Linked DNA regions of Homo sapiens. The protein of the gene in region 1 purifies or fractionates together with the protein of each later gene. This does not show direct contact. Each region holds a gene or a part of one and is shown on either strand. Other genes may lie near its edges. The genes, in order: TRAFD1, ACAD11 and BBS4.

Region 1 (2,432 bases):
ATACACTAAAAGATCTAACCCTACTATGTATCGTTTGTGTGTGTGCGCGAGTGCATGCAGACGAAGCTTTTTTCTCTCAGGATAATTCTTTTCAGAGACCTGCCTCTGCAAAGAACTGGCCGCATGGTTCCCGTGTCTAGTGTTCCATCTATGAAATAGGGCAGTTCCTCCCACCTTTCCCACCCCAACAGGTTGTTGGAAGAACAAAGGAACTCAAAATGACCTACGGTGCTCAGTGGTCCTATGCAGACGGAGGCACTGAGGGGTAACAGCTAATCCTGCTAGGGCTCAACTCCTCTCAGGATGAAGGCTTTTGAAGAATCTGCTTTTCTCTATTCAGTCAGAGGCACCCCTTCTAGCCCCAGTCATCACCGGAGCTGCAGCAAGCCTGTCAGTTTTCTCAGAAGTCCAATTTAAAACACTACACGTTCAATGTCTGTGTACTCCAAGAAGGGACTCATGGTGGAGCTGCGAGGGTTACTGGAGTGCCGGAGAAAGCCCAGCCCTGCTCACCTCCTCCAACCCCAGGGCTGACTCCAGCCTACCCTGCCCTCCCTGCAGTCTCTAAAGCACACAGGAGAAGGAACCACAAGACTGAGCTGAACTCCAAGTACAAACTTTATTTCTATTACAAGGAAGTTAATAATTATTATAACAGTAAAATAAAAACAAGGGGAAGGGGCTCTGACACTTGGTTTTCAGAGCAAGTGTGGGGCTGGGGCAGAGCCCAACATACCTGCTGTGGGGACAGGGAGCCCTCAGCCCTCCCCATTAGAAAGCAGTGAGGACAAAAGATCCATGCTCCCCCGGGAACAGAAGGCAGTGATGCCAAATGCCAAGGAAGCAGCTTAAAACACAGCCCCCGGTCCACTCACCTCCAGCTCAACACATCAAAAGCCTCGTTACTGACAGACATTGCAACTGGCCTGAGCACCTTACCAGAGCGCCTCATACACACCTGGGGCCCAATCGAGTGTGGACAGACGCAGTACACGGAGAGGTTGCCCAAAAGCCCCCAAATTTAGGCCCCAACAGGGCAGAGAATCACCTTACTGGTGGCTACCAGGTTTCCAAAATCTTCCCCTCCTTCCACTGGGACCACACAGCACCAAGGGGCAGTGGCGACAATAAGTCAAAAGGGAGCCCTGGCAGCCGAGGCTGCAGCTTGTATTTCACTGCTGCCGAAAGGTAGCAGCTAAGGCTGAAGCGTTCCTCAACCGCCACCCTGCTCCCTTCCCTCAAACCCAAACCCCCACAGCACAACCTCAAAAGACACAAAATGGCCATAACCTAGAAAAATCTAAAATCTGGAAAAACTCTCCCACCCAAAGAGCCAAAGAGGTGGGCCTGCACAGCGGCAAGTGCTGCTGTGCACAGAAGACAGGAACCGATGTAAAGTCTCTGGAGACACCATTACTCCTCCTCTTCCTCTTCTGCATCCCCAGCTCCCTGTTGCTTGGAAGGCTTTGCCTGGTGAACAACACAACACAAACGAAGCTTTACATAAAAAGTGAAAAAGCATTACTCCTCCCCTGGATCCCCGAAAATGTCCCGCTTCCTTAGAAACCTCCTTCTCAAAAGCCAAAGGAACAATCTTTGAACCACAACCAGCCTGGTCCCAACAACTTCTACAACTTCAGGAGCCACACAAGCCCCACCATGTCTGAGTCCCCCACTGAGCATCATGGGCTGGAGCCCACCTTACCTTTGCAGTTCTGCTGCGGTAGTTGGCAGCTGCAGGGGTGACCCGGGAATTCCTGCCACCTTCACTCCTACCACTGAAAGAAAACAATTAGAAACTAGCTCCTGAAGTGTCCCTGAGCAAAGGTCAACAAACTCAGAGGGAACAGGAAGCAGTCCTATGCTAGCAGACAAACCCCAAAAAACCCATAGGCCACAAAATAATTTTTTTGGAGTCAGGTGACAATACAGGGAAAATCCATACTCCTCCCCTTACCATGCAAGTACCTCAGTCTTACCCCAGGCCTGGCAAGGGTAACCAGGCCTTTGCCCATGTTCGCTTCAGCTACTCCCAAGCCCCATTCCTGGGCTACTGATTCTTACCTAGCTCCGTATCTCCCTGAAGGCCCAGGGGAGAAAGAGGGCACAATGTTTTCTGGGTAGAGATTTTGAGGAGGGCGAATCACTGAAACGTGCCCAGGGGCTATGGCCCCATTCTGGCTGTCTCGATTCCGCCCCTGGATGTCCTGGCTGTCTGAGTTGCTGAGCTTCGGCACACAAGGAGAGCTGGGCTGGCACCCAGGTCTGGGGCCTGATGTTGATCTCGATAGCTGGTTATAGGTAGCTGTCATATTGTTAATGGGTCGGCTGGGAGGCAGACAGGAGGTGGGCCCATTAGCTGTTTCCTGCTTAGTATCATCCAGGTAACCAGAAGACAGGTCTCCTGAGAAGAGAAAATGGTAACAGCTTTA
Region 2 (3,659 bases), on another chromosome or scaffold:
GGAAAAAAATTGATCACTCCTTTCTCTATGACTTTATAAGAGCTTTTATTGTGGTTATATTATACTATAAATTTATAATATTATAAGTATTATAAATTACTATACTAGCTAGATTTGTGAAACTACTGAAGAGGATGGATGCATTTTTCTCTTACATCATTCTATTTGTTATCTATGCTTTTAACATCCAAAGTAAAGATGAGGCACTTACTTATGCTATAAATGATTACTTTTCTTTTTTAATACAATTGGGAAACTTCTCTGGAGTTACTTTTCAGAATATCTGAACCATTTTTGGGGTAAAAACACAAAGCTATAAAACAACAGCCAGTGAGAAAAGCTGATGGCTCATCAAATTGCATAAATTAGTGCAAATTAATTAGCAATAGCTAATTAGAGTCCTGTTGATGCCTGTTTGTGTTGAGAGTTATTAAAAGCTCAACATAACTTTTAGTGGTTGATCTGGACATTTACTAGTTCGTCTTACTGCTGCTAGGGAACTTATTAGTAAAATTATTTTTGATAGTTTTTCTGAAACCTCAGCTCAACAGAAAGCTTTTAGTTTTTTAAATTATCTTCTTTATAAAGAGATTCATTTTATGTATACTTTTTACACCATTGAATTTTATTAATATGTATGTGTATTGGCATTCGAAACAAACAAAAAATACATACAATCCAACAGAACAAACAGTAGATGAAGAAGGCAGGGAAGAAAATAATAGAATTTGTAATGAAAAGATGAAGCTAGGAGTAAGGTTATTACACATAATTGAATGTGATAGGACATGCATAGTTGTTAGTGTGGGTAGTAAAATTTGCTTTGAATTTTATAGCGGGTAAAATAAAGTGTGAAGCATGGTCAGTCACAATCTTTATAGTGTATGCAGGTCAAAAACAAACCAGCTGCTCAAGAGGGACAAATTTTCTTGGCAATGAGGCTAAAGAAAAATATCACCCATCAATCTGCATACAGGTGATATTGTGTAGCGGACGAAAATGTCTTCAACAATATAAAGAGAACTTTGAGGGGCATGGTGTAATTCCTAGAAAGCAGGCTATGCTGGAAAATGACTGAAAGGACAAAGATGAGTTAGGTAGAAGACAAGACCACATGCTGAGAGTGGGAACCGAGATGGGACAAGAAATGTGAGAGTTTGAGAAGAAGGGAAAAGATTTAGAAAAGCCATTTTTTAAATGTCACAGGTTTTACTAAGAGATGAAGTTACAGCCTAGATAAAATCATGTGGCATAAAAATGTCCCAGATCCAATTAACCTTACTTCACGACTTTATTCTGCAGCAAAAATATGAGGATTCAAGTTTAGGGCTAGAAACTGGTTAAAGTCAAGGGGTGATGGACATCCCCTGTAGGGTTATTAGAAAAAATAAAAAGTAAAATAATAATAATAATGATGATATAAAGTCAGGGTGGGAAGATTCTAGAATAATAAGTAACCTAAGGTCAGGACACTTTATAATTCTTACATTACTTGCATACATCTATAGTCAAAAAATTATTAATGAAATTGATACTAAAGGTAGTTTTTGAGATGACTGATTATGACCATGTGGCTTATGTAGGATAAGAAGTCAAGTGAAGTCATGAAGGGCTTATGGATTCTAAATTAACAGCAATCAAATTTGCAGTGTCTCAGGGAAGATGCAGAGAAATAAAAGAACAGAAGGTAAAGAGGGTGAGGTCAAAAATAAGGGGTTTCAATTTCTAGATCACTGAAGTTGACAAGTTCCAATGGATGTTTCTAATTAAATATATTTTTCAAGTTGAAATGACAATATGCAGATTTTACATTAAACTCCAAGATCTTAAACATTTCTCTACTGGTAAAATTTATATTTGGAAAATCAACATTTTCCAGGAAAACTGGATTTCTTTTCAACATTGCAGTGAGCCTATTGTGCTACTGAAATACTTGCCCAAACATGCTTTAAATACTTTGTAAATAAGTAACAGAAAATAATTTCGTTTTGCCATATCCTGTAGTTTCCTTTACTGGCTTACTCCACACATTCCTGGAAGGTTTGTCATTTAAAATTGTTTATTCTTCTTTCTTAATTGTTGTGTTTTCTGATGACAAAAATTAAACATGCTGTTGTTTTAAAAATAAAAACCAAAAAACATCAAACCCTAAACATTACAGAAATGTACAATTATGTCTCCTATAATTCTATCCCCTACAACCACTGTTTAGGTTTTCGTACATATTATGAAGCATTTACTTATACCCTAATATTTTTCTGAAGAAGCTTGACAAGTAGTCTAAGAAAAGTCAGAGAGAAAAATGAAGGGGAAAAAATGGAAAAATGAGGGTACCTGAAATAAACTGAGCATCATTGATGTGCCAGGTACCAGCTAGTTGCTCCACATTGACTGTTTCATTTTAGCTGCCCAGCAACTCAGAATTTTTTTTTTCAATTTTAAAAGGTACACAATGTCAATTTCCTGGCTTTGATAATGTACCATAGTTGTATAATATCCATTTTGCAGAATTTGGATGATGGATACACAGGACTTCTCTGTACTATAACACTGTTACAACTTTTTTGGGGACTCTAATTATTTCAAAACAAAAAGTTAAAATAAAAATAGAGGCACAGAGAGAGATTGAATAACATGCTTTAAGTTCACACTGCTAGGGAATGAAAGTTAAGCATAAATTTATGAGATGGAAATAGTTGCTAGTGAATAATTAACTAAAATTAATCCCTTCAACATAGATTCATCAGAATCATATAAGCACCTGCAATATAAAGATGAATAAGATACAGTCATTGTTTTAAAGGAACTCCAAGTCTAGTGGGTTCTAATTTGTTATCTACTATAGAGACTCAATATTATGTAGACTCGACTAAAATATTAATTAAATGACACAGATCAAATACAGGCCAGATCCTGCTATGTTTTCAGGCATATGCTTTTATAATTATCTAGATTATAAATTAGCATATTTAATTTTTCTAATCTCAGGGTAGATAATTAACAAGGTTAGAATTCAGAATTCATCAGTGCCACTAGCTCTTCCTGCCCTAAAACATCTTAGCATTCTAAGAAACTAATGAACCCAGAAAATCCTCCTCTCAGAAGCAGGATTCATTCCTACTATACTGTAATCCTAGGCCTCATTGTAGGTGCTCAGTGGAGGATTACAGCTTTCATTTGTTTATACTCTTTATAAAGAATACAGTATGCACATTTACATTGAGCAAGGTTATATTAATCTCATGTAATTCTTTTGAAGCCTCAAGAAGCTTTTGGAATTCTCTATTCTCAGAGTTTATAATAAACAAATAATAAATTCTTCATGAGATAGGGCTAAAAACCCCAAAGAAGTATAAATGAACCAGAAAAAACAGCAAGAACATGGATAAGCTAAATATTGTAACTAGTAGATGAAAACTTATTTGAAGAAAACAGCATCATGCATGTAAAATTCCCAAATCCTTTTAAGCAGTAAACCAGATACCACTTGGGATTAGAACCAGTCTCAAAGGTAGGCAGCTAACTTATGCTGGAAAATCTGCAGGACTCCTTTCTAAAAATTTTGAGTGGTGACGACAGTCCTGAGCTGTAGGGGAACAGGGAGTGGGTTGGGCTCCCTCAGTGCTCTGGGGGGAGCATTTACTTAGTACTGTGTCACA
Region 3 (3,659 bases), on another chromosome or scaffold:
CATTCCTCAGGAACATTTGTCCCAATAGGTTGGATATATTTATGTCCCTGGAAGAAATTTTCCAGTCCCATCTATGCTGATGGGCCTGCTGAGTATAGACTCAGGAAAGCTGCCCCACTGCTACAGCCTTTTGGGAATGACTGAATGACTTTCTCTGTGCCATGTTTTCAGGCCATCTTGGCAGCAGGCAGCATGATGCAGACCCACGGGGACTTTGATGTTGCCCTCACCAAATACAGAGTTGTGGCTTGTGCTGTTCCAGAAAGTCCTCCACTCTGGAATAACATTGGAATGTGTTTCTTTGGCAAGAAGAAATATGTGGCGGTGAGTGTCCCCTCATGTTCTTTGTTTGTATTTCTACATGTGGTTATTGGGTCTGTTTAGCTTGCCCTTCTCATTGAGTGCCCCTTCTCTCTCATAGGCCATCAGCTGCCTGAAACGAGCCAACTACTTGGCACCCTTTGATTGGAAGATTCTGTATAATTTGGGCCTTGTCCATTTGACCATGCAGCAGTATGCATCAGCTTTTCATTTTCTCAGTGCGGCCATCAACTTCCAGCCAAAGATGGGGGAGCTCTACATGCTCTTGGCAGGTAAGAAACATTTATGTGGAAAACTCTCTCTGCCATCTGTAATGAGGGAAAAATGGATTAGAATCATAGAAGATCAGTGGCTGTCTCATAGGAGCCATTCCCTTAGAGATCCTGTAGGAATCTGGATTACTGTCCTGGAGCTTGAAGAAATAGAAAAAGATGACAAAGGAACTTGGTTGTTTCTAACTTGGGGGAGTTTGACTCAGAGACCAACAGGTTAAATAAAGATCATCCCTAGTTCACCTTTTACCAGTTTTTTCCTCTTGCCTTGACAATTCATTTATGTATATATTGAGTCCAACTAAGTTCCAGACAGCAAGTGTTAAGAGCTTGGGTTTTAGGTAGGGTCCTGCCTCTACTACTTATTATATGTACCTAGGGCTGATGTGAGGATTGCATGATTAAGCTCTCAATTAATAATACTGGTTTTGTTGAAATACTGATTTTTGAAAACTGTTGGTTTTACTGTGGTTATATAATTGGTCTATTATTATCAATATTGTTGTTACTATAATTGGCCCCTAGGTGATACTTCCAAGTCAAGCTACCTTATGTTGAAACCCTTATCTCTTCTGAGCATGTTATATAGAATGCCATTCTCTTCCTGAAACTCCATTTTATGCCATGCAAATACTAAAATTGATCATAAAAATAAGTTAAAATTAATCAAACACTTTAACAATTATGCACAACCATTTTAAAGTACTGACTAGTCTTTCTAGGAATTTTTTTCTCCATATACATTTACTTACTAAATGTAAGACCCAAAGCAGATTTCCATGTCCTCATTTGGCAGTCGTCTTCCAGTGGCTTTTTGTTCATTACTGTGGGTTCTTATTTAAAAGAGAAAGCTTGCAAAAGCAATTGTGGTTATTTGAGGGTTGCCTGAATACAAAGATAACTTTAAAAAAAAAACATAGGTTTTATTATTATTCAGATATGGTATGGGCAACAGATCAGAAGACATCTGCCACTGGAAAGATAGTCTGTTACAATTCCTGAGAAGGAGGGCATGCTACACCGTGCAGGGCCACATGGGGAAGCACCAGGTCAATCAGGAGGTAGAGGGAGCAAGGGGTAAATGTGGGCACAATTCTTTATTGTAGTTTTCATGGGTAGAAATGCCCTCCCCGGGGCAAGACCGGGAAAGCAGGTTAACCAGGTTGGGGATTGGCCAGTTTGAATAATTTCAGTGGGCTCTGGGCTATAGGGCTGTCTCTAGGTGTCTGGTACCTGACCCTCGGGTGACTAGGACTAGGGAATATTGGCCCAGTGTCAGGGCCCAGTAAAGGAGGCAGTTAAGAATATGAACACTGGGTTGGTCGGTCTGCATACAGAAGGTACTCTTGTAGGGGTTATATCTAGGAATTAGCTGACTGTGGGAGGGACAGTCTCCCCAGGGTCAGTAAGGCCCCAGATGTCAAAACATCAGAATAAAAAGGCTAAAGTGGGGTGTGATGGTACATACCTGTAGTGCTGGCTACTTGGGAGGCTAAGGCAGGAAGTTTGCTTAAGCCCAGGAGTTGGGAGTACAGCCTGGGCAACACAGTGAGACTCCATTCCTCTCTCTTTTTTTAAAAATTTTATTTTAGGTTCAGGGGTACATGTGCATCCTGTTACACAGGCACGTGTGTCATGGGGATTAGTTGTACAGATTATTTCATCACCCAGGTACTAAGCCTAGTACCCAATAGTTATTTTTTTCTGGCCCTCCCCCTCCTCCAGTAAGCTCCAGTGTCTGTTTCCCTCTGTGTCTCCATGTGTTCTCATCATTTAGCTCTTATAGTGAGAACATGCAGGATTTGGTTTTCTATCCTTTATTAATTTGCTAAGGATGGTGGCCTCCAGCTCCATCTATGTTGCTGCAAAGGACACGATCTTGTTCTTTTGTATGGCTGTGTCGTATTCCATGGTGTACATTTACATTTTGTTTATCCAGTCTACCATTGATGGGCATTTAGGTTGATTTCACATCTTTGCTATTGTGAATAGTGCTGCATTGAACACACACATGCATGTGTCTTTATGGCAGAACGATTTACATTCCTTTGGGCATATACCCAGTAATGGGATTGCTGGGTCGAAGGGTAGTTGTATTTTTAGCTCTTTGGGGAATTGCCAGATTGCTTTCCACAATGGTTGAACTAATTTACACTCCCATCAACAGTGTATAAGCATTCCCTTTTCTCTGCAGCCTCACCAGGATGTTATATTTTGAGTTTTTAATAATAGCCATTTTGACTGGTGTGAGATGGTTATCTCACTGTGGTTTCAATTTGCATTTCTCTAATCAGTGATAGAGTTTTTCATATGCTTGTTGGCTGCATACATGACTTCTTTTGAAGTGTCTGTTTATGTCCTTTGCCCATTTTAATGGGATTGTATTCTTCTTGTAAATTTGCTTAAGTTCCTTATAGATCCTGGATATTAGACCTGCATGGTTTGCAAATATTTTCTCCCATTTTGTACATTGTCTGTTTACTGTGTTGATAGTTTCTTTAGATAGCTGGGTTCTAATGGAACACAGAAATGTAAACAGCCATAATGTAAGAGATAACAGCGATGCTAACTTTACAAAGTAGAGATGGCATTCAAACTGGATCCTGAACAACAAGCTAAAATGGAATAGCACAGAATGGCTGAGGAGCCACTGTGAAGAAAGGCATGCAGCCATGAAACTGCAGTGTCCCTTGCTGTTAGTGGGGGTTAGTGTTAGAGAATATGATGGGAGATGAATCAGGAAAGATATTCTGGGGTCAGATTATGGAGGTCATGCGTACAGTGCAAGGACTTTATCTTAGAGGCCATGTTTGTCCAGCTGTCTTCCTAGATCTCCTCTTAGGTGCCTGGTAGGAGTGAGTGCATAGCTGGTGGGGAGGTGGAATGGGCAGGGCTTCCAGAGCAGCTGTTTTTGTTTTATATATTAGGTGTCAAGGAAATACTGATTTTAAAAAGTGGGGGGAGTGTTTTACTGCTAAATGAAAGTGTAAAGATCATGGTTATAGATGTGGGGGGCCAGTGAGGATTCCTAAGTAGGATGGTAATGTGGTCAGATTTGTAAGGCAG

What was found.
Region 2: the proteins of TRAFD1 (region 1) and ACAD11 purify together in Homo sapiens (affinity purification with mass spectrometry; 2 studies listed by BioGRID and IntAct, with this or other methods). This does not show direct contact.
Region 3: the proteins of TRAFD1 (region 1) and BBS4 purify together in Homo sapiens (affinity purification with mass spectrometry; one large-scale study listed by BioGRID and IntAct). This does not show direct contact.

Annotation. Positions count from the first base shown.
Region 1 is NC_000012.12:112,151,773-112,154,204, reverse strand, and holds the end of TRAFD1 (TRAF-type zinc finger domain-containing protein 1), read right to left. Parts: intron 2,405-2,432; coding exon 2,065-2,404; intron 1,779-2,064; coding exon 1,706-1,778; intron 1,471-1,705; coding exon 1,414-1,470; 3' UTR 601-1,413; downstream 1-600. UniProt on the Homo sapiens protein: Negative feedback regulator that controls excessive innate immune responses. Regulates both Toll-like receptor 4 (TLR4) and DDX58/RIG1-like helicases (RLH) pathways.
Region 2 is NC_000003.12:132,635,791-132,639,449, forward strand, and holds part of ACAD11 (acyl-CoA dehydrogenase family member 11), read right to left. Parts: intron 1-3,659. UniProt on the Homo sapiens protein: Acyl-CoA dehydrogenase, that exhibits maximal activity towards saturated C22-CoA.
Region 3 is NC_000015.10:72,731,134-72,734,792, forward strand, and holds part of BBS4 (BBSome complex member BBS4), read left to right. Parts: intron 1-171; coding exon 172-324; intron 325-421; coding exon 422-593; intron 594-3,659.